Linked DNA regions of Homo sapiens: region 2 is linked to region 1. The links come from fine-mapping of genetic effects on gene expression. A gene starts in region 1. The other region holds a variant in brackets. All regions are shown on one strand. Distances are from middle to middle.

What was found. PIP is the estimated chance that this variant, and not a neighbour inherited with it, causes the effect.
Region 2: its variant is fine-mapped to the expression of LINC02769 in caudate (GTEx, PIP 0.97).

The regions. Positions count from the first base shown.
Region 1 is chr1:208,631,596-208,644,518 of GRCh38, reverse strand. LINC02769 (long intergenic non-protein coding RNA 2769) reads left to right here and starts at 6,271. Exons shown (of 3, transcript NR_187286.1): 1 at 6,271-8,534. RefSeq lists an enhancer at 12,051-12,220.
Region 2 is chr1:208,777,181-208,790,103 of GRCh38, reverse strand. No RefSeq gene overlaps it. Among named protein-coding and RNA genes, the nearest start is that of LINC01717, 55 kb to the right of the region's middle. The variant A/G (reference allele first, on the strand shown) is at 4,926.

The sequences.
Region 1 (12,923 bases):
TGACAATTTAGAGTAATAAAAAATAGTTTAACCAGTATTATCATAATTTATATGTCATAATAAATAGTAGAAAAAATAAAGAACTCTTCTTCTGTTATGCAAACCAAGGGTAAATCCTATTACTGGTTTAAACAGAAGCCAAATGAAGGAGATTGCTGCTATGGTTCTGGGAAATCTGGCTGGGGCAGGAGACCCTGGGCGATTCTGCTGCATCTGTGACTCGGAGAGAGTGGCCAGGAACAAACATCTGACTGCGAGTACAGGAAAGAGCCCTGCATTAGACTTCTGGCATGTGCTGTCCAGTCAGTTTCAATGATCTATGCAAACGTGGGCATTCTGTCTCCCCAGCTGAATGTAATACTTTCTAGGGCTGCTACTCAAGGGCTACCCTCAATGGGACTGGGGCTGGGGCTGGCCTGGTTGGGCTCTAGCCAAAAGCAGAAGTCAGAGACTGGCTTTGGAACAGTAAAATCTAAACCAAAGCATTTCTACCCAAGGGCAAGAAAATGATGAGGGCCAGAGATGTGAGTCAAGACAAAGCCTGCAGGAAATTACTTGGATCCCCAAAAAGGGTGTGAAGATGGCAATGCGGGCCTGTTAGCAGAGACAAGTATTCTGAATTAATGGAGATAGATGAGCAAGAATACACTCTGAGATAGAAAAGGAGATAGGCCCTGTGTTCCACTCATCTCTGTGTCCCTATCATCTTGGACACTGCCTGTCTCATAGCAAGTGCTCAGCAAGAGTTGAGTAAATGGACAGTCATTCCCTTCACCATCTCAGCGTGTGCTAAACTATATCACGTATGGGTGACTGAGAGAATGGAAGCTCTGAATTCTATTTTGGGATGCTTCATTTCCTCCTCGGAGAACCCTTTTTGAAATATGCTAACCAGAACCAAGATTTCCCTTTATTTTTACTCTCTAATCAAAGGAATTTCCCAGGGAGGTGGAATCCCTCAATACCAGGAATCCAGTGCTTGTCAGGGATCCAGTCCAGGGGACAGTGGAGGGTCTGGGATTCCCACCTCACTGGCTGCCAAGAGGTCTGGCTGTGCTCCCAGCAATTCCTGAGCCCCTCCTATCCTCCCCCATCTCTCCTCAGAGCTGACTGGACCCCTCCACACAGAAATCTGCTGCCTGTGAAATTGTAAAGTGAAGGGAAAGGAAGTGCAAAAAATAACTTCCCTAGACAATCAGAGCAGATTATTTTAATGAGGGCTTGGAAATGGGAAACAAATGACACCAAATTAGCCTCACTCCCATTCATCAACTATGTTGGTGCAAGCGCTAAGCCTTCGCCTGAGTCAGCAGTGAAGCTGAGGTGGCTGCCTCTAGTTTCAGGGAGCTCCTCGCAGGAGCCCGACACATCTTTCACAGAGCTCAGTAGTCTCCATTCAATTGTTTCAAGGCTGCTGGGGCTCAGCGCTGCTAACCCTTGTCTGCTTTAAATTTCCTCTGGATAGAAGTACGGAGCGCTGAAGGAAAAGAGGGTCCCAGAGCCCACCTGTGGCTCAGGGAAAGGTAAATGACAGAACCAAGCTACTCCTATTTCCCAGAGCCCACCTGTGGCTCAGGGAAAGGTAAATGACAGAATCAAGCTACTCACATTTCCCAGACTCTGTCCCTAGACCAGGGAACTTAATTGTGGGTGAACCACGTTACAACATAGAACATAAGCAGTTTGTCTGTATTTTCCTCTGAGGCACACACCTCTCCTTCATACCGACCAGTTTTGTCTCCTGGCCAGCCCTGGTTATTGTCAATGAGAGGTCATCGGCTAGGCTGAGGTGGACTGTTGTGCCACAATTCACAATGTAGACTTATAGTAATAATAATGTTTCCACGTGCAGCTGGAGAGGAGAAGCTGAGCTCCTCTGAAACTGGGCCTCCTTGGGTCAGAGTGGTGAACAGAAAAAGACTACAATAATTACATTAAGCAAAATGAAATTGTTTCCCCACTGGAAGGAAGGAAAGTCATTAACTCAGAGGGTCCAGTTATCAGGGAAAATGATATCACATCTGCAGTGTGTTTTGGATTGCAATTTAACAGGAGAAATTGGAAGAGAATTTGATGTGGGGTGAAAGGTGTTGGATTGACAGCTCAGGGAATTGGAATATGCTGTTCTCAGTCCACCTCTTGTTCTCTATCTCTTGGTCTCTGGGTCTCGTCTTACCTACTCTGACATTCATTTCTCCCTCTTCACAAGAGACAGTTTGGGACAGATACTGATGCAAATTCAATCCTTTTCTATTTCTAAAGCCTTGGAGGTTCTTGGTTTTCAAATTCATACCAATAATCTAGTTTGGCTTTTAGCTTGCCGGGAAGTCCCAGGGTTTCCTGAACTACTGGGTGCCTGTTTCTGCTACTTTTAGGGTTATGTCAGAATAGTTTGGCTAGAAGAGGGGTGAGGTTAGCACAGGAAACAAGGAAGTGTTCATGACAGAGGAAAATAACTTTCGGTTAATCATTCAGTCAGAAATTTTTTGCTGAGCACTTACCATGTGCAGAACACTGGGTTTCATGTCATGGAGGACATAAATATGACCTAAACATCCTCTCAGGAAACTTAAAACCTAGATGAGCAGATAGAATGCACACATAGAGCAATCCACAAATGCCAGGCAGACACTCGTCACAATCACTGAAGAAACTGTCCTCTTTTTGCTATCTTTTCACATCCTCAGCCCAATCCTAGTCCTTCTATATCCATCCAGGGAATGAGTCATCAGTAAGATTAATCCATTTTCACCATATGTTTAGAGTTATAAGAACTTACTGTGGAGAGGTCTACTAATCTAAAGATCTACCAATCACACCCCTTTAGAATAACTGTTATCCAGTTTGACAGATAAATTGGAACTGAGTTTATTGACTTAGTACCACATTCTCAGTCTTTCGTGGCCCAGGGAGTTTTGTTACATGGCTCCTGAGAAGGGCACTTTTTTTTCTAGCTCTACCACACTGCTTTAGCTATGTAATAGGCTAACCTGCTCTAACCTTAAATACATGAGATTAAATAAGGCAGAAACTTAGTGGGAGGCACAGGGTGGACAGGCAGCTCTGCTCCACAGAGTCACACGGGGACCAAGGCTTGTTGCTCCAGTGTTTCCATCGTCAACATGAGGCTTCTATGTTAGGGTCAAGGTGGCTACTCCAGATGTCACCACACTCAGTAGTGGAACAGAAAGAAGGAAAGGCAGAGTAGAGGGAAACTTGTTACATTGTAAAGATTCAGGTGATGCATGCTTCACTTCCACTCACATATATTGTCCAAAACTTAGGAACATGGCATATCTAACTGCAAAGCAGACTGGAAAATATGGGGTATCACAAAAATTTGTGTTCTCAAGTAAAGGTTTGAGATTCTATTACTAAAAAGAAGAAAGAAAGAAGGAATACTGGGAAATAATTAGCTCTGTCTTTCATTCCTTTCTCTACCATACTTCCACTAACCAAATCTTCTATCTCTATTACCCTAAGGAATCAATCATATTCTTTTTTCTAATTTTCCATTCTCTTTAGTACTTAACCAAGTAGAATGTCCCCTGACTCCTAATGTGTTTGTCTTTGAACCTTAAAACTGTACGGGAGCCCCCCAAAACCCTCTCTAAGCTTTCATCCTTTAATCAAGTACTTTTTCTTTTCATTTTCTGAGTTTACACTGGGATTTATGGAGTATCCTGTCATGCACTGACACGAAAAGAAACAAAGAAATCTGGTTTCTGCCTTCAAGGGTCTTCTGTCTCTCACTGTCTTAGTTCAGGCTGCTATAACAGAGTGCCATAGACTGGGTGGCTTAAATAACAAACTTTTTTTTCTCATAGTTCTGGAGGTTGGAAGTTCAACACTAGGGTTCCAGTATGGTTGGGTTCTTGTTGAAGTCCTTTTTTCTGGTTTTTACAGATGGCTGTCTTCTTGTATCCTTACATCGTGGAGGGGGGTGCAGCGGGGAGGGAGAGAGAAAGAGAAGAGGAAGCTCTCTAGTGTTTCTTCTTAAAAGGCACTGATATCATTCAGGAGAGCTCAATCCTCACATCCTAATCACCTGGCAGTGGCCCCACCTCCTAACGCCATCACATTGAGGTGTGAGATTTTAACACACTTTTTTTGCGGAGACACATTCAGTCCATAGCACGTGAATACACTTGCTGCCTACTAACTCCTTTGTTCTTACCCAGCCCCTACCTCAGTCTTTACTTAGCTTTTCTTGTTGAATCATTCATTTCCCACAAAACAATCTGCAACTGATCTGGTGTTGACTTTGCACCCTGTTGTGTTTCTACCCAAAGAATCCTTTTCCCATCACACACAATCACCTGATTTACACATTTGCCCAATTATTCATTTATCAAAAATCAAGACCCTGGGCCTACCCTGTGCCAACACTGCTCTGGACACCGAGTCCATGGTGGCAAACTGCATGGCCTCTGTTGTCACAGAGCTTACTACATTAGTGGAGACAGGTGGCCAACAAACAAAGGTATACTTATAATTACAAATTACACAAAGTGCTTTAAAAAAAAAAAGCAAGCTGCCATATGAGAGAATAACAAAGAAGATGAAATTCAGTTTGGAGCCAGTCTAGGACATGACACCAATTCTAGAACTTAAAACAGGAGCAGGGCTATCCAGGCAAAGGAGGGAGAGGAGTCTTTTTGGCAGAGCCCCACCTATGGGAAGCCCAGAGATAGAAAAGAAGTTGGAGTGTTTTAGGGATTGAAAGAAAGGCAATGTGACAGAGGCACCAAGAGAATAGCAATAAGAGATGAAGATAGGGACTGCAAGGGGAGGGGAGGTGATGGCAGAATATCCAAAGCTTTCTGAAAAGGAAACCTACAGAAGGGTTTTAACATGGGAGGGACATGTTCTGACATATGTTTTAAAGTTCATTTTGCTGTGGGAAGAAAGGATTAGAGGCTGATAAGAATGGAAGCAGAAGGAGAATAATTAGAAAACTATTGTTACGTTCCCAAGGAATAAAGGTAGTTTGGACCAGGGTGAAGATGTGTGATGGAGAAGATCATAAAGTCTCTCTAGAGCTGGGCTCAGGTAAAATGCACCCTTTGCCTGTTTTTGTGAAGTTTTATTGCTACACGACCACTCTTGTTCATGTCCATATTGTCTATGGCCACTTTCTCTCTGGAATGGGAGAGATAAGTACTTACCACAGGGTAAGTATTTTAAACTTTTCTTTGATATACAATGGAAATCTCTCTTTTGATCAGCTTAAGGCCAAGTAAGGAGGACTTAAGAAGGACCACGGAAAAATTGAATGAATGGGGAATAAAGCAAAGCTGAATTGCTACTGGAGTTAAAAGGAGTTACTGATGGTGGAAAGAAGTCAGGCCCGCTGGTGTTTTACCATAACAAATATCTGAAGTAATCTCCATACCTTCAGATCTCCTTGTGGCTGCAATAGCTCTTCATATGGAACTAGCCATCTACCAAATTATTTCCTTTCTCAACAAACATCACTCACAGCCCTATTATGACTGGAAGTCTTTTTAATAAAACTGTCTGTGAAGATTGCAAAATAAACCTATGGAGCAGCGTCCTCACTACTTCCATCTGTTTTTCCACAAATTTCTCTCCCTTTTCCACAGAGCAGGTTTGTATTTCCAAGAAGGTGTATCTTCAGGAGTTCTAATAAAGAACAGCTGAATGCAGCAATCTTTGCCATCAATACAGCCAACCTTCAAGGAATCACTTTTCACAAATGATCTGACGTGGAGGTACTCCTTTCTTAGAATGTATCTTTCTAGTCAGGGCATTAGGTATTTTTTAATTCAAGTTAGAAGTCAGGACTCATCTTACACTTTCTACTTGAGTCTTTCCTGCAGGTTGTATCCTCTATATTAAGAGTATGCGTAGTTTATCTGTCTTTTAGGCAAATAGCCATCTTATTCCCACCCAAGGTGAGAGTCCATTTTAGTTCAGGAAAAAATAAATTTAAATTTATCGAGAGGGAGATTGTTGTGAGAAGAGAGGCAGAATTCCTTAGCTAGAGGAGAGATTCACAATCCTATGAATTGAGTAGACACAGAAGGCCTGGTCCTGGCTAAACGGAATGCTGGGAGCTCATGCCAGGGAGGGGTGGTGTGCAGAGGGACTGGGTTGGAATCCAGGTGGCTGAATTCATGGGAGCGTGGCAAAATCAGGTCCTGTTCCACTCGGGCTCAATTTCTAAAACCTACATGACTCCTAGGGGGTCTTCTCAAAGTACGGATTCTGATTCAACAGATCTGGGATGGGTCCTGAGCTTCTGCACTTTTCACAAGCTCCCAGATGATGTCCATGTTGCTAGTCCACAGACCACACTTTGAATAGCAAGGGAATAAGGAATCTAACTCTAGAGTTCAAATGTATGTGGGGTGAAGGTTTTGGGTACAATGTATGCTATGTATATTCATTTGGAGTCTAAATCATTCACTGGTGCTCATGGGGGATGACGATGTATGGGATTTCTAGAGTCCAGACTCAGTAAAGGAGCTACAAAGACTTGGGAAAAAGGTCAAATTCCCTAGTGGACATGCTGGGATCAGCTGAGAGAAACTTGATAGAGGACATTGGCTCCACCTACCCAGGAATAAGAGTAGGTTAGCCAGCCCTGAGTCAGGGGAAGAGGAGCACCACAGAACTAAGCCTCATACAGTGGAGGGGCTGAGAGCATGGACTCAGCTGCCAGGGAAACTGGACAGGAATCTTGGCTCCATAATTCTGAGCCTCTGTTTTTTCTTCTGTAAAAACTTACATTATGGGCTTGTTGAAAGCACTAAATAAGATAGTCCATGTGTTCTGGGTTCTGGTCCCTGAAAAACAGACTCTGAGATGATGATCTTTATGGAAGTGGTTTATTACACAGTGCCCCCTGGCAAAATCCATAGGGGAGAAGGGAAGTGGGACATAGAAAGGGAAGGAAGCCAAGCAAGGGTGCAATATGAAGCAAAGTTCTGTGAGTGTAACTTTAGCTCAGTCATGCAAGGAAACACTGGAGAGTAAATCACAAAACTAGGGTTATCCCAAACTAGAAGCAGGGTAGCTGGATTATTTATACCCTCACACGCATCAGTCATTAAGGGATACTCCCTGAGGGATGTAAATTCCTAAGCTCTTGCAGCTGTCTGCATACACAAGAAAAGCTGAAGTTCTGGATCTTGAGGGAAGTCCTCGGACAGAGTTGGGGACTGACTGTCCTGAAAAGAAGCACATCTGAAACTGTATGCACGACTGGTAACTGGCAAAGGATTGAGGGCATGTGAGAGGTGCTCTGAGAGTATCTGCTAAATTATGGAAAGAGTTTTAGCATGATCTGTGCCAATCCTAACCCACTGGTAAAATCTCCCTTTATTATATACAGTGTATACATAAACATTATCTATGAAGACAAAAAAGGACAAGAAGAGCAGGTATCTATCTCATGGCACACTGGACAGTGGGACTAGAAGAAGCAGATTATTCTGGGGGTCGACTTTGCAAATGCAACACATTATTAGGGAAACTGGGATCCAGTTACTGAGTGGCCTAAATGACCAGAAATCCCAAAGATCCACCTATTACTGTTGACAGAGAAGAAAAGTCATGAAAGTTCCTTTCAGTCCTGTGACTGCTGGGCACTGATTCTGCATTCAAGATGTGTTTCTAGATGTGAGTGGCCATACTTTATTGCTTGTGGCTTATGGAATGGATAACCTCCGTGGGCTCCATTTCCTAATCTTTAAGGTAAGAGGTCCTCTAGTTCTAAAATTTTACGAATTGACAAACCGCTAACTACAAGATGAACACTCCATAAATACTAAGCCACATTCTCCACAGTCACACATCCCCAAAGTGAGGTAAATTTCTTTTTCCATAAAAAGGTGCCAGAGATAGTGTATCTTTGTTTCCAGCATCTGTCCTGTGCAGGTGTACACGGTTCTCACCCAACTGGCTTCTAGTAATCCTTGTAGTTGCCTCTTGTATCCATGTGTCATATGCCTCCTGTGACTGATTAGTTAATCTGTCTTTCTCTGTCTCACATACTCTATAAATACACAAAAAGACATATATATGTACACATATGTACATGTATATAATTTTTTGGGCATAAAAAGCAGCCGAAGTATCCTCTTACTCTGATTTTAGAGATTATAACTTTTAGGCTGATTGGGGTGGGATGGGAGGCAAAAAAAATTGCTCAGGCAGGATTCCGATGCTACTAATTACTCACCAAAATATGGATAAGACCATTTTTGTAAGCAATGAATTGGCTCATTTAAAATTCCTTTGTTTTCATTTTTAGAAGAAAGAAAGAGGAAGAAGGAAGAAAGTCAAAAGGATGAAACAACAAAAGGAGCTCCCCACAGAAAGACAGACTCTTTCGCCAGCACATTTAAGAATCTAAATGAGGCCAAGTGCCAAGCAGATAAAGGGACTCTACTTGCTGCACAGTAAATAAAACGGAGGCAGGAGGACACCTGCATCAAACAATACTTTCTGAGGGGATGACAACAAGATTTCAGAGAATTCAGATCCTGACTTTCCTGCCTCACCAGGTAACCTGGCACAGAAGGATATCTAAGAGGGTAAAATAGACTGGAATCAGACCTAGAACAAACTATCCCCTCCCAACACAGTGGGGATGGAGTAGGCATTGTGGAGACGGACCCTGCTGCAGCCAGGTGGATGGCTCCTTGTGGCCAGAGGGCTGACATCAGGAAGCAGGTGGGAGTCCAGGCCATCCGATGGTGCCAGTGAAGGTAGCAAGAAGGCTGTGACGGCTTGTTCCAGACCATAACAGGGGAAGACTCAGGGCAGGCACTAGAAGAGACCCAGACAGACAAGCTGCTCATCAGCAGGGAAGGCAGATGGGGAGGGTAAGAGTAGGAGGGCCTTCATCACATTGATGGAGCAATGTGACATCAGGTGGGCCTGGGAACCAGCACCTCGGTCCTGGATGGCAGTAGAGAGTAGAGAGGAACTGATTGCAGGCAGGTTGTTGAGTAGGAAACTGTAGCAATTTCTTAGGACTGCCATAACGAAGTACCACAAACTGGGTCACTTACAATTACAGAAATGTATCCTCTCACTGTTCTGGAGATTAGAGGTCTGAAATCAAGATACCAGCAAAGTTGGTTCCTTCTGGGTACTCCAAGGGAGAATCTGCTCCATGCTTCTCTGCTGGCTGCTGGTGGTTGCTGACAGTCATTGGTGTCCCTGGGCTTGCAGGTGTATCACCCTAACCTCTGCCTCTGTCATCATGTGATGTTCTCTCTAAGAGCCTCTGCCTCTGTTTTCTCTTCTTATAAAGACATCAGTTGTGGGAACAGGGCCCACCCAAATGCAGTATGACCTTATCTTAGATTAATAAATTACATCTCCAAAGCCCCTGTATTAGTCAGGGTTCTCTAGAGAAATGGAGCCAATAGGAGATTGCATGCACACACACACACACAGGCACACACACACAATTTATTATAAGGAACTGGCTCACACAATTATGAAGGCTGAGAGGTCCCAAGATCTGCAGTTGGCAAGCTAGGAACCCGGGGGTGCTATGTGCAGTTCAGTCTGAGTCTGAAGGCCCGAAATCCAAGAAAGCCGGTGCTATAAGTTTCAGTCCAAAAGCCAGCAGCCTTGAAACCCAAAAAGAGCAGATGTTTCAGTTTGAGTCCAAATGCCAGGAAAGATCAATGTCCCAGCTTCCAGCCAGGCAGGAGGAGTTCCCTCTTACTTGCAGTAGGGTTTGCCTTTTTGTTCTATCCAGGCCTTCAACTGATTAGATTAAGGTCACCTAAATTACAGAGGGCAATCTGCTTTATTTATAAATATATATATGAGGTGATTTATCATAAGAATTAGTTCATGTGATTTTGGAGGCTGAGAAGCCCCACAGTCTGTCATCTGTGAGCTAGAGATCCAGGAAAGCCAGTGATATAATTCTTTTCAAGTTTAACGGCCTGAGAACCAGAGAAGATGATGGTGTAAGTCCCATTCTGGGTCTGAAGGCCCAAGAACCAGAAGCACAGATGTCTGAGGGCAGGAGAAGACAGACATTTCAGCTCTTAAAGATAGAGCAAATTTATCCTTCCTCTGCCTTTGTGTTCTATCTGGGCCCTCAATGTATTAGATGCTGCCCAACTGCATTAGTGAGAGCGCTCTTTTTCACTCAGTCTACCAATTGAAATACTAATCTCTTCCATAAACACACTCCAAACACACCCTGAAATAATGTTTGACCAAATATCTGGTCTATCCCTTAACCCAGTAAAGTTAACACATAAAATTCATCATCACTGTCTCTATTTCCAAATAAGGTCTGAGGTTCTGGGTGAACATTAACATGAAGGAGGCATACTATGTAGCCTGGTATAGTTCCCAAAAGAGATTGCAGCTCCATGGAACAATATAAAAACGTCTGAATAGAGCTACGGCATGAGTTTGTGCTCTGGTCCTGGGAGGAGCCTGAACAAGTCAAATTATAATCATATGATACATTACGGAAAAATTATGGTTCTAGAGCTGATGATGAAAGCCAAGGAGTAGTGACATTAGTCTCATGTTTCAAGAAGTAACCCCGATGGGCAATTCATGTGTTTAGCCTTAACCACATTCCAGCTCCCACTGAAGAGTCCTATTTAAATTAGCATACCTCCTCTTCCTCCTCAAGCTTCTGGTCCAACTGAAGAAAGGTATTTCCCCTTACCACCCCTCCTATCCTCACAAGAATCACTTCTGTACTGAGCTATCTCTTCTAATCTGAGAATGCCAGATTGTAGAAGAATGTGAGAACCACTGTTTTAATGTAATCTCACCTATTGTATCTGAAAAGACAGGGGTTGGGCATTTGGGTACCACTGGAAATGCTGATATATGCTTTCATACCAGACTTGGTTGGAGTTTTGTATTATTTTATAAATTATAGGACACGCCTGAGATTCTGAGAAAGTTTTTACCTTAGGAAAGACATAAATAAAGACTTTGAATCTGTCAAGAAGAGGAATGCAAAAACTTACCTATTCAATAGCTCTGACAAGGCTAGTGGTGTCAGCACCAACCAATAAAGTTGGGAGCAATCACGGAGAAGGACTGACTTATTAGTCTAGGGGTGTGGATGTGGAGATGAAAAGTTGACATGATGTTCTGGGGAGAAGCAGATATAGGCACCAGGAGCAAAGACCTCTGAGAAACCAAACTCACATTGTTCAGACAAATTCAGAAACTCAGATGGCTAAGTTCATTTGTCAAGTGAACACCAATAAATCCAGAGGTCATAGGAGGGACTCAAGAATCTCTGAGAGGCAGGCCACCTTCCATGCAGGGACAGGCAGATCACTGGCCAGAAGACTACCTAGGCTTCATCCAGGGAGTCTTCTTTTTGTCTACTAGATGTGGACTTTCTGGTTAATTCATATACATCCTGAGCACTTACTACTATGCAAAAATCACAATTAAATGATTATTCATTTGTGATTTAATTTTTCTCTAGCCAGCTGGGTGGGCTAATGTTAAAGAAAACAAAATAGAATGAGGAGACAAGAAAAAACAGGGCTTATTTTTAAGATGGCATGTGTAACCTAATTTTAAAAATAAAAATATATAGCCAGGCATGGTGGCTCATGCCTGTAATCCCAGCACTTTGGGAGGCCAAGGCAGGCAGATCGCCTGAGGTCAGGAATTCGAGACCAGCCTGACCAACATGGTGAAACCCCGTCTTTACTGAAAATACAAAATTAGCCTTGTGTGGTGGCTCATGCCTGTAATCCCAGCCACCCGGGAGGCTGAGGCGGGAGAGTTGCTTGAACCTGGGAGGCAGAGGTTGCAATGAGCCAAGATCACATCATTGCACTCCAGCCTGAGCAACAAGAGCAAAACTCCATCTCAAAATATAAATAAATGAAAATAAAATATATATGTATGTATACGTATGTATACGTACATATACAATTGGCTGGATGCAGTGGTGCACACCTGTAATCCCAGCATTTGGGGAGGCTCAGGCAGGCAGATCACTTGAGACCAGGAGTTCGAGACCAGCCTAGCCAACATGGCAAAAAACCCATCTCTACTAAAAATGCAGAAATTAGCCGGGGATGGTGGCGCACACCTGTAGTCCCAGAATTGCTTGAACCTGGGAGGCAGAGGTTGCAGTGAGATGAGATCACATCACTGCACTCCAGCCTGGGTGACAGAGTGAGACTCTGTCTCAAGAAAAAAAAGAAATATATATCAATTCACTCCCTTCCATTTGGACCTCTTTCATTTTCTCATCAGCTCTAGTCTGCCTTTCTTTGAATGTTTTCAGTCCAGTTAGGAGTAGTTACAATGTCAATGTCATGATAATACCTATTAGTTTATAAAACACATATTTATGTTACTTGATCCTTTCAATGGCCCTGTGATGTAAGAATTACTGTTAACCCACTTTACGGAGGAGAAATCAAGTTGTAGCAAGAAGGAAGTCCAGCCAGGACTGGTATCTGAGACTACTGGATTGCAAATTCAATGCTATTTCCACACACCACACACCACCGCAGTGGAGGAGAAGAACCTCGAAAAAGAACTTCTGTCAGCTTTAGAATTGGTGGTGATTATTTTCCACTCTGCCTCAAGGCAGAGCTCAGATAAACCCCTGAGGGCAAAGTTGTTAGGACCAGAAGGGCTCGAACTCAGACTTGCCTCTGCTTCTGAAGGGACCAGGGCAACCGAACTCAGGAAGAGCTCTGTTGCCTTCATCACTTAATTAACTGAGCGTCACACTCCATTTGCTGTTGTCTCCAAGACACTGGCAATTGTGTGGCTTTCTTGGCTTTTCATTCCATGAAAGGCTCTTTCATCCCAGCTCCTCCAGGCCCTGGGGAGCTGGATGGGAAGGGAAGAAAGAGGTGTAATGGGACTCTGTGAACACGGCTCTGTATTGTGCTCCACTGTGATATCCTGCTTTC
Region 2 (12,923 bases), 150 kb before region 1:
ATTCAAGCATGACCACTTCATCATTGCTTATAATACCAAAAATGGGAATATTTGTAATGTTCTATAATAAATATGACAAATTCATGAGCCAGAATACTACGCAGTCATTAACAATTATGTTGTACAAGAATATTTAATGATCTGGGGAGGTCATAATGATATAGTAAGTAAAACAGCTGTTGTAAAACCAGAAATACAGTATCATCCCATTTTATTAGAAAATATGCATAGTGTGGCCGGGCCTGGTGGCTCATGCCTGTAATCTTAGCACTTTGGGGCCAAGGCAGACAGATCTCTTGAGCTCAGGAGATTGAGGCCAGCCTCGGCAACATGGTGAAACCCTGTCTCTACAAAAAAATACAAAAAATTAGCCAGGTGTGGTGGCACATGCCTGTAGTCCCAGCTACCCAGGAGGCTGAGGTGGGAGGATCACCTGAGCCCAGGAGGTTGAGGCTGCAGTGAGCCATGATGGTGCCACTGTATTCCAGCCTGGGCAACACGGTGCATACCCTCTCTCTCAAAAAAAAAAAAAAAGGAAATTTACATAGTAAAAAAGCCTATACATTAAAATATAAATAGTGATTATATCTGCGTAGGTGGAATTATGTACTACTTTTTTCTTCTTTGTGTTTTACAGTATTTTTCAGTTTTTTGCAATTAAAGTTTATTGCTTTTTGCAATCAAGAAAAATAAAAGATAAATTGCAAAAGGGATATATCAGTAAAGATTGCATTCTACAAAGAACAAATCTGTGTGCATACTGTATTAAAATCTCATAATTAGTGAAACATTAGCCTACTAAGGTTTTAAATGGAATGGGTCATGGCCTTGCTGTATTGTGTAGAGCCCAAAACAATATAGACATTTAAATCAATGTAATTTTTAGTGCTTAACAATCACCTTTAGATTTGCATGATCTGAATGAGTGGCCCTTTGGGTTATATACGGACTGTGACAGTTACCCAGCTTCAGGTTACAAGCATGCAAGACCATAAATCAAACCATTTCCTGATGTAAACAGGTCTCACAAATTTAGACTTCTCAAATACTCCATGAAGTCCAAATTTAACAGCCGTTTCAGCTAGAACAACCATCAGCAACCCCCCGAAATCTGCATCTAAACTATCCACATTATCTGAACATCTCTACAACCATCAGGTCTGTTTACTCGGAATCTAGGGATAAAGGGTTAGTGGAAAAGAAAAGAAAATTGTCCCACTTGGCTATCTCACATAATATAACAAAGAGGGCAAGACCCTCGATTCTGCAGATAGCCTGAAAAAGATTGTCTTAGATCCGAAGTGGAAACACTCTGTTTATCTGGTTCAGATTCCTATTCTCTTATTATGCTCAGTGAGGCCATGTCATTTAAAGCTATTTCTTTCTACCACTGTCTCTTTTAAAGCAACATCTGCAGAATTAAATTCCATGCACTGACAGGGATGCTTTCAAAAGCTCAGAATCAATTCTTCAATCATTCCACTTTCTTAGCTGTGATTAAAAACATGTGTCCCCTAATTAAGCTAATGAGAAACTGTTAATTGGCACAAAGCCCCCTCCTGTGCACACTTGTTAATGTCACCCTCACTTTGACAGGAGAAAGGATCAAAATCAAGGGCAGAGAGTTCTTAAGTGACTTCAATATTGGACTTAAGGAGAGGAGCTTTATTTGGGATGCTAAGGCTGTCAGTTGTACGACTTGCATGGAGGAATAAGGAATGTCATTTTGCTGCTAATTTTATAAGGAAGCAGAAGGAAGGGATGCAAATAGGACAACAGTTGATATGTTGATTTCTTTTTTCTTCCTCACAGAAATGATGGCATTCAATTCTCTTATTTGCTTTCTATGCAAGAATGAATCTACATGATAAGCCACAACAGAGTAGGAAAGCATCCCTCTCTGAAGGAACACTAGGAAGGAGCCCTCCCTGTAGACCCATCTAGTTTCCTCTTTGTCTCTAATGAGCAATATCATTATTTCATCTTCCCCTGCACCCAAGGCTCCTTGTGGATAGGAGAGGTATGCTTTGCCAGAGGAAGCACATGCTTTGATAAGATTATTTTTTATATTTTTCTAAAATTTCCATTTTGGAAAAACTAGAATTCTTTACTTGCCTAGTTTGTCCCTAGCTTTTCTTATGTAACTTTGCATACCAGCAATGATTCATTCCTAAAGTCTCAGAATCTTCTGAAGATGAAAAAATGTCCTGCAACGGGGAGGCTGGACCAGAGCTTATGGAGGACTGACAAGAGAGCTGTTATCAAGACAGCAGGCCACAAATGAGGACTCAGAGACCATGAACTTGTCTTGGTTCAGAGCAGCTCATTCCAGGAAATGGATCTCTCTGCCTTAAGTAGCCCTGGGTCGATTCTTGGGGAAAGAGACAAGCCTGGAGGCCAGGGTAACTCAGGTTATTAACCAAAGCTCTGAAAACCACAGGTGAGCGAGATCTGTTGCTAATATCTGAAAGTCCATTGCTTTATGACCCATCGGTGAGGTATAGGGGTGAGGAGGTTCTGCTCATCTGGAGCCCTCTTTTTCAGTCACCTAACTGAACCAAGTGTTTATCAGACCTGTCGATCATCTGAGAGAGGAAAGAACACTTTGCAGTTTGAAGGGTGTGAGCCACTGCTGGAACCTCTGAGAATGCCTGGCAGCAAGCTGTCACCCTGATGGGTGTGTGGAGCTGGCAGCTCCTCAGGCAGCTGTTTCTATGAGTGATTTGATGAGAAAGGAGGAGGCCAGTAAGAAGAAAGCTGTTTTAGAACCAGGGGTTGGAGTTAAGGGACATGGGCAATCTAGTAGTGGTGTGTAGTGTTTTTCCTCCACCCAGTCCCATGGACTATGCTCGAGTTCAGAGAGATGATTTAAAAGGGGCTCTGAGAATCATGGGAAGGACAAGAAGCACTCAGCACCTTCAGCTAAGAAAGAATGGCAGTAAATGGGAGGCAGACTCCTGACTGCTGCAGACCTTAACCTCCCTCCGGGGAGACAGGCTCTGGCACAGATGCTGGTGTTCCACCATGTGTGCCCGCACCTCACAGAGAGGCAGCCTTCCTAGTTGATTTCTGCGCTGAGGACCTTGACAACGGTCACTGGTGCAGGAAAGGTGGAGTGCTGAGGCGACTGTGTGGTGGCTAGAGCTGTTAGGAAGCCTGTGTCTGCCCGATAAACCTGGAGAGGACCTTAGGAAAGGAGATGCCACATCGGTGCCTACAAGCTGGGGGTCCTGGGGAGATTTGAGTCACTTCCTCCTGTTAGGTGTGGCAGTGAGTGGGGAGGGTTATAGGAAGTCTTGGTGTGGGGCAAGAAAGAAGGAGGGGGTAGGAATTAGAGAGACCACTTTGGGATTGTAGACTAAAAGTCTGAAAGGCCTTTAAGATCCCATCAAATTGTGCTACATGCACCTGAGGTTGTATTAGTTCAACCTCCCCATATTTTTCCTTTCTTATAATCTCACCTGGGGAACTATAAGCACAAAATTCAATCAGAAGAACCCTTCATTAGCTTCTATCTGATGCGTAAAAGGGAAAGATAAGAATATACCAGTACGGGCTCAGTATCAACTAAGAGTTCACAGGGAGGGGAAAAGAAGACAAATTGAGTTTTCAGGAGAGAACAGGCTGTACTTGTCACACTCTCTTCCCACCTCCTGCCCCCAGGAATCCGCTAGTTAAGAAAGAGTTCTATCCTATGGTCAGAAGGCTGGGATGAATCAGCCAGGTGCGGTGGCTCATGCCTGTAATCCCGGCACTTTGGGAAGCCAATAAGGTGGATCACCTGAGGTCAGGAGTTAGAGACCAGCCCAGCCAACATGGCAAAACCCTGTCTCTACTAAAAATACAAAAAAAAAAAAAAAAGCTGGGTGTGGTGGCAGGTGCCTGTAATCCCAGCTACTCAGGAGGCTAAGGCAGGAGTTTCGCTTGAACCTGAGGGGTAGAAGTTGCGGTGAGCTGAGATCACACCACTGCACTTCAGCCTGGGCGACCGAGCAAGACTGTCTCAAAAAAAAAAAAAAGAAGGTAGGGATGAATGTTTTATTACCTAGTTTTGTAAATCAGTGAATGTGTTTATTTGAGCTAAAAACCAAACCATGACAGAGTGGGACTAGGACCAGCTAAGTCATGTTTTGATGTTTTGAGACTGATCTGAAGTAATCCCCCCCTTTTTTTTCACCCCATTGCTTCCTGCAGGGACAGGGACAAGATGAGATGATGTATATGAGAGTATTTTGTAAACTCTGAAGTACTCAGTGAATAGGCTGAAATCTGCTGAGAGTAGCAGAATAGTCCTTTTTTAAAGTAAGAAGGATAAGAAATGATTTGCATAGTTTACAAATTCTGTTAGCTCCAGTCTCCAAATGCATTCATTCTAACTCATAACTCATATCCACTACAATCAGGGCTGGTGCCCATGGCTTTGGTGTCCGTGAGTATGTCTGGCCTGGCAGGGAGGCAGAGCTAAGAATAAGAAACAAGTTGGTTATGCTCCAAATATAATAAATTTGTCTACCTTTAAAAAATAAAAAAGGATATTGAGATAGATTCTGGCTGAGTTAGATTTACAGACACTTACTCTTTTGCCTGTTTTTAAAGTAATGAAAATTCTATCTCTCCCATTGAATCTGTCCTGAACTTAACCAAGAGTTGTCTATTCCTGTCTGAAGACTCTAAGTTGCTTTAACAGGTCCTGAACCCCAACTCTCCAAAACAGAGGGATGCAGAGGCCTCTAAAACCCAGGGTCTAGGTTTCTGCCTTCCCTCCCTTCGAAACCTGCTTGCTGTTTGCTATGGGATTTCTTTTACCCAGTTGTCACCTCCAGACCATTTACAGCTGGAGCTTCTCTTCGGTTGCCATACCTAACCCTGGACACTGTTTTTGAGATAACACTTAGTTTTAAACCCTGCCCTGAAGGGTCAGTTCC[A/G]TATCACTCCTGTGTCTACTGTGGACTTCTGAAAGTCAGGCTGGATCAGAGATTGAGGTCTTGTGTTGACATGGAAAGAGAGTGGACAATTCCACACTTTGATTCCAATTCTAAGAATAGCAGAGAGGAGCCAGTGTATTGTCCTAATCCAGGGCAGGTTCAGGGTGTGGACGTCCCTACTGCACCCTCCTTGCTAGAACTATGACTATCATTGGGCTTAAATGGAAGAATGAGGATGGGATTCATTTTAACCAGGCCACCTGAGCATTAAGGGAAGGAAGCCAGGGCAGGGTAATTAATACAAAGCCCTTGACTGCTGAGCTCTTCCACTTCAGCCACTGGGAATTTGTGCCATGAAATCTCCTTCTGAGGAACTTCTGTGAAGTTGCTACAGATATCCTGTAGCAACTAATTCCACCCTGATTGCACTTGGCGTGGCCTACTCTAAGGACCAATATGATGACAAGAACAGAGCAGTAAAGATAAGAGCTGAGAAGGCAGAGTGGCAGTGCTGTTTCTTTATGTTTGGATGCCTTTTGTTCCAGAATGAGGCCACCTGGTTAAGGGGGAGGAGAGGGGGGTTCTTCCTAACCACTGAGAGCTGCCCTCTCACTAAGTAAGCATCAATGACTGTGCTGTGGTTGATAGTTTTATATATATATATATATATATATATATATATATATTCTCCTTTCAAACTTAGAGACCAGTTTTTCAATGTCTAGGCCTGCGGTTGACTGGCATTCCTGACTTTGCTCTCCAAATCTATCCTGCTCTGACCATTACACACCCACATCCCTGGAGGAGCCGTGTCCTGTGGCCCACTGGGAAGTTGCGCCCCGTACAGTAGATGCACCTGACAGCAATAATTTAAGCATAGCCTATATAGCAGATACACCTGAATTCGTGTTCCAAGCTAGGGAATTTGGGCGTGGCCAACCTGGAGATTCATTCCTTGTCAATGAGGAACATCTGAGCCCCATCCCTACGTACACACCCCAGCCCATCCTGTGGAACATGGGCTGTATAGAGGATTGAAGCCCTGAGTTTTGGGTTGGATGAAGATTGCCAGGTGGAGGTTGTTAAGGGCAGGATATTAAGTGAAATGCTATATAAACTGCATGCTCTTTGCAAATGGTTGGGGTTTTCCTGCCTAGCCCACCACCACTGGGCTTTGTTGACTGTAGGTAAGGCGGTAAGGCAGACATTTTGTCCAGCTGCTGCCACTGATCTGTCTCTGTATGTAAGGCAAATCTCTTGTCCAACTCACCACCACTGGAATCTCTCCTGTCTATGTAATCCATTAATAAAACCTCATGTCTTGCTTGCTGTTCCTGGTTCTTTTCTTTGGCCTCTTGACCCTAACACCTTCCCTATTGAGGTTAATAGGGGTTTGGCACAACAGCTCCAATGCTGACACAGCCTTTATCCCCAATTTTAAAGAATTTTGGCCTCAGAATGAGCATAATATTCATTCAACAAATATTTATTGAACACCTATTATGTACCAGGCAGTGTTTTAGACACTGAGGATGCAGGCATGAAAGAAACAAAACTCCTGCCCTGATGGAACATACAGGTTGGCAGATATAGAATGAGTAAAATATATAGTGTATGGGACCATGATAAGTGCTATAGAGAAACATAAAGTAGGGAATGTGGATAGTGAAGGCAGTGGGGGGTCATTGCAAGTTTAAACAGGATAATCAAGAAAACAAGGAGGCCGGGTGTGGTGGCGTGGAGTGGAGGACCTCTCCCACTACCTTAGGCTGTCTTATGCAGAACAAGTGGGGACAAAGGTGGGAGCAAGGAGACCAGGTAGAAGTTATTGTAGTAATATAGGTGACAGATGAGGGCAGTTTGGACCATATACAAGGTGATAACAGAGGAGATGCCAAAAGTGGATTGAATGTATCTTGAAAGTAGAACCAACAGGATTTGCAGGTGGATTCAATGTGGGATGTCAGAGAGAAAAAAATCTTTCCTTGCTCTCCCAAGGGGTCTTAAGGCCTCCGGGTGGCCAGTCGGTTCAGAACATGTCCTGGGCTTGTAGATGAGGCTCCCTTTCACCCTTCAGCCCTCACTGTACACACAGAGTAAAAGAGGACTCTTGTGACCCCAAGTAAAGCTCAGGGATTAGATGATAAATCACTAGATATAAAGAAGTTAAATGAGGAGTCATAAAGGATTATCTTCCTCCCAAGTCTTGAAAAAGTATGCCTTCCTTCACATGGCGTCAGCTGGATTTTCAGAAGGCATCCTCGTGCCCACCTTATGTATGACTCCATATAACAGGAGCCTTTAGTGTAACCATTTATTGCTCTTCCCTCCCCTACCCATTCCTTTCTTTCGGATATCCTGGGAAATGTAAGTTTTTTGCTTTTTGTTTTTGTTTTCAACGTAGGAGCATTTATGGATCTTCCTTGCACAGGGTAAAAAAGAGTTCGTTTTATTAAAGTACTCATAAAAGAAGCTAAGTTAATAAAAGAGAGAGTTGGGGGAGACAAGGGAGCCACAGGCTTTCAGAGTAGCATGTTTTAAGTGTTTTTGCAGCTCAGTTCCCCCCCGCTCTCTTCCCCAACCAGCTATTACTGCAGTATTTTTGCTCACATCAGCGACTTTCCACCTCATCTTTCTTTCTCACAGGTAGTTTTGAAACCTAATTTCAACCTGTTTGGATGAGATGCCAGCACTTGACTGGAGCCCGGCCTCTGCCAGCAATTTGGTGCTCTGTCCTGGCCAGTTCAGCTTTGAACTGCTGAGTGATAGATAACTGTGGCTTGGGTGAGGCAAGTGAAACAGGTGTTTCCTCAAGCTGTCTGTCACTCCTGCACACATTCTTTGCTGGGGGAGATTCCATGTTGTCAGCCCCATCCGAGAGAGACAGGGAAGTTGCCTTTAAGCATCCAGGTAAAGTGACACCTCTTGGGAGTTACATGATGCATTGAAATTAGCTGCCGTCCCTTCTATTGTAAAATGTGAAGATGCTGGTCTCACTGCCTAGAAGATAGTGCAGTTGGAAGCAAGCTCCTCTTCAGAAGCTTGACTTTCCATAATGTTCCATCATGGCCAGCACCAGCATCCTTTTTTTCCTCCATCCCTCCCCCTTTCACTTCTATTCAGTGGGGTGGAATATGTAAGGACTTCAAAAGGATAACCACCACCACTCCACTATAATGCATCCCCACAATTGAATGGGGACAGGCAGGGCAGGAGCAGCTAAGAGACATGGCCTTTTTCTCTGCCTAGCAAAGATTTCACGAAGCATTTAGGAGGGGGAGCGGGAAGGGGAGGCTGATCAGATTTCTGAAGTATTTGAGCAGCTGTAAGCTTATGCATATGAATAGAGGCTGCATGTATAAAGCCACCAACCGCTGAGCCAAAGGCCATTTGACTACACCAAAGGGAAGAAGGAAACTAGAGGTGGGGGGAGGACATTGAGGAAAATAATAAAGGTTGTATTAAAATGGTGAATAATGGAATTCAGAGGTTATCACCAGAGTTGAAATGGAATATGAGGTTCTCACTTTCATTCTGTCTTAAGCCTGGTGCACTGCTGATGTGGTTTATTAAACAGCTGTCACAATCCAGGCCCCTGAGGCAGATGCATTCAATGGGGTGTTAAGAAGAAATTCCAGTAGAGGCAGATAGAGCAACTGGTTTCACCAAAGGCTCCCCAACCTCAAGTTCTTTCCCATCCTGGTGCTCCCCCTATTAGAGAGAAATTGAAAATGAAAGAAGAAAAAAAAAGCAAAGAAATAGGAAAATAAGCAAAAGATCAGAAAAAGTGAATAACAGGGGAATAATATTATTGGAAGAAATGCTAGTTCTTTTCACAATAGGTTTAGAAGTTTCTGATAAGCACTTCACATAGGCCACGGTGAGCCATGCACGTGTTGTGAAGTATACAGGATGTCATGCTTGCCCTTTTGAGACTTAGAATCCAGAGTGACATTTGAGTTAAAGGATGAATGGGTATCACCAGGATAAATCATGGAAGAAGGCAGAGAGAGTAGAGATTGTGTGTGTTATGATCTGAATGTTTGTGGACCTCTGAGCATCAGGTTGAAACAATCTCCAATGCAGTAGTTATTAAGAGGTGAGCCTTTGGGAGATGATTGGGTCATGAGGACTCTTCCCTTGTGAATGGGATTTAGGCCTTTATAAAAGAGGCTTCACACAGCATTCAGCCCCTCTGCAGGATTCCTCTGCAAGGCACCATCCTGGAAGCAGAGAACAACCCTCCCCAGATAACTGAACCTGCTGGTGCCTTGCTCTTGGACATCCTAGCCTCCAGGACAGTGAGAAATAGATTTCCATGGTTTATACATTACCCAGTCTCAGGTATTTTGTTATAGTGACACAAACAGACTAAAACAGTGGGAGGCTGGAATATGCCACCTGAAAACATGAAGGATTATCCAGCTGAAGGCAATTTGGAAGAGGCAGATGCAGAAAAGCTCTCTACCTTCCCTCTATTTGCCTAAAAAGCAGGACCTAGACTGACAGAGACAAAAGGTTCCCTGCTCCTCCTCCTACCAGGGAGAGAACAAAGGTTAAGCACTGGAGACCACTTTGGGTGCTTCTTGGTCTAGAGATGGTACTAGAGGAATCTACATTAATAAGCTTTACTAACAGCCTTTGTCTGCCATTTATTTGTCTTCCCACCAATTGCTGTCCCCAGAAACTCAGTCCTTTTCCTTTGTCTTGTCACTTCTCTAAAAGTTTACCTCTCTCTGTTGAAGATACTACGTAAGCTGGTATTCAAAGCCACCTCTTAGAGAACTACTTATTCCCTGGGTGTCTGCCATGTATATATGAAATATACATGTTAATAAACTTATTTTTCCTCGCTTTTCTCTTGTTCATCTGTCTTTTGTAACAGGAGTTTGTTCCAACAAAGAACTTACGAAGGATGAAAGAAAAATTGTTTTTCTTCCCCTACAAGAGGCATAAATATCTTTTCCATTCATGAGGCTTGAGCACAAGATATTAAGTGATGCATAGCAGGAGGGGACCTGGAAAGACAGGTTTGGGAAGGATGGAGAAGGTCCTTGAATGCTATCCATTGACATTTGGATGTGATCCTAAAGGAATGGTGAACTCTTGAAGGATGTTAAGGAAGAGACAATCAAATTCTCATTTCAGAAGGACCTCTAGCTGCTGTGGGGTAGACTAATTGAAAGGAGACAGTGGCTGGGCATGGTGGCTCATGCCTGTAATTCCAGCACTTTAGGAGGCTGAGGAGGGTGAATCACTTGAAGTCAGGAGTTTGAGACCAGCCTGGCCAACATGGTGAAACCCTTATTCTACTAAAAATACAAAAAAAAAAAAAAAAAAAAAAAAAAGCTGGGTGTGGTGGCGGTTGCCTGTAATCCCAGCTACTAGGGAGGCTGAGGCAACAGAATCTCTTGAATCCAGGGGGCAGAGGGTGCAGTGAGCTGAGATCATGCCACTGCACTCTAGCCTGGGTGACAGAGTGAAACTCCATCTCAAAAAAAAAAAAAAAAAAAAGACAGGGCCGGAAACAGGGAAACCATCAAGAGACTCAACAGTCTAGGTGAAGGATGGTACTGGACCTCTCTGAAGGAGAAATGCAGTCCATTCCTCCCCAGCTCAGCTGGTGCCCTCTGGTCTGTAGTCAGAGCAGTGGCTGAAGAAACTGTGTGGCCAGCAGACACTGTGTCCTGGGGAAGGCCGTTGGAGGAGCAGTTCACTGGGAGTAAAAATAACACTCTGGAAGCAAATGCCCCTGCAGTTGTAACTGGCTCCATCCAAAACCTTAGGAGTCCCACCATCAGAGCAACTTTTTAGAAGTACCCAACAAGAGTAGCATGCATATTGGAAGAATTTGATTTCCACTCTCAAACTACGTGATAATTATCTCATTTTAAAATTCCTTAAAATGGTACAGCTTTTACTTCTATTCACAAGTAGATTTAACAATTTCATATGATGTTATGCTATTTGATTGTTAATTACATCATTATTTTATTATCCAGAAATGAGAAATACTTAGTAGCTTTAACATTTTTGAATTCCAGAAGGAAAAGAAACTAGATTGTTAACTTTTTTTAATAATTAAAAAAAAAAAAACTTAAGTCAGCCCATTCTTTGCCTTATAGGCTTTTTCTCAGCAAGTGCAGAATGATAAACTAATTGTGTAATTAGGAATAAATGGCTTATAAGAGCAATACCTTATTTTCTAAAAAGGTATAAGTGTTATGTATTCCTTTTTTAAATGTGCTCCCATTAGAGCTAAAAAAGAAGTGAAAAATATAATTTTGAAATAGTTGCTCTAAATATATATTTTGTGACCAAGATTTTCCCATTGACATGGTCCTTGCATTTCCCCAAACAAAATTGAATGTGTGTCAAAAGCTGCAGAAATGGGACAAACCATCTCCCTCAAGTCTGGGTTTGGTTATCCTGGCCCGTTCAGTGGTTGTCATTTATCTTCTTTCTCTGAGCAGATCATGGGCAGACTGGAGAAAACAGCTGATGACCAAAGATGAATGATTTTTTTCTCTTTATGATTGCATCATCCTATAAACACAAGATTTTTATTGTTTAGTTCTTGTTTTAATGGCAGTTTAACCGCAATAGCGCATGAATACCTTTTGTACATTTGCTTAGTGAATTTGTATTCCCGTTCTGGTTGACTCATTTGGTCGAAACATTAAGTTTACATGCCAAGGGGAGGAGAAAAGAGGGATGGGGCGCCAAGCTTAAGGAGAGGTAAAAAAGGCAATTATAATTTATGGGGTAAGAGTGCCAGAATTTCATTTTTTATTCTAAAGCAAGGACTGGTTCATCAGAGGAGCCTCATCAGATGGGTAAGCTTTTTTATGCTTTTCTAAGGACATCAACTTACATATTTGATCCTAATAAGGTTCTGGTGTGTAAGAGGGGCAATGACTATGCCCACTTGCCAGAAGGGATTATTGAAAGCACTTTTCAGTCGTCCTTCCAGTTTTTTCGATCTAAATAAAAAGAGCATTGCCTCTGACGGATCCATCATTCCTAAGGGTATTGGAATAAGAAAATGACAGAACAGATGCGAATGCACTTAGAAAGTAAAAGCAATATATAAACGCAAGAGATTCTTAGTTTTATTACAGAGATTTATCTAGTCCTGCCACATTATGACAGCATAAGCCCTATTAGCTACACGCATTATAAAAATCTATCATTGGCAGAATCGGCCTTGGGTGGTAGCAGCTGGCTTTGACTATTAAGACAGAAATCTCTTGGAGATATGATAAATGAAGATGGTTGTAAAGAAATGAGACTGGTTAGTGTTACCTGTGGAAACTAGCCTTGGTTCTGTCTGGGCCCTGTAAACTCCTCCAAAAGAACGGATGTCTAGATGAAGCTAGCTGGGCCAGATTGGACAGAATATTAGGCTTGATAGCCAACGTCCTGGTTTCTAGATCCAGCTCAGCCACTTACTAATTGGGAAAGACCATTCCGTTAAAGTATTACCTGACATGGTTCTTCTAGTAGGACTAATTATATTGTAAGTGAGTTGTTGACTTATGTTGGCAGATGTTAACTCTTTAAACTGCTGAAAATAGTTTTATTTTAAAGAGGAAAATGAACAGAAATTTAGATCCCAATGTTATATGGACTCTTTCTCTTCCACTTATTCATTTATCAAATGTAAATACTAAATGTTTGGTGTATATCAGACCCCAGCTGTAGGATTGAGGATAGAATAAAGAACAAAAGAGAGAAAAGGTCTTTTTCCTCTTGGGGATTATATTTCACTAAAGGAGAGTGTATTAGTATGCCATGGTGGCTGTAACAAATTACAACAAATTAGTGGCTTAAAACAACAATTTGTTCTCTCACAGTTCTGGTGGCAAGAAGTCTGAAGTCAAGATGTTAGCCAGGTCACACTCTCTTCCTCCAGAGGTTCTAGGGGAGAACCCATTCCTTGCCTCTTCTAGTTTCTGGTGGCCGTGGGCATTCCTTAGCTTGTGGCCATATCATGCC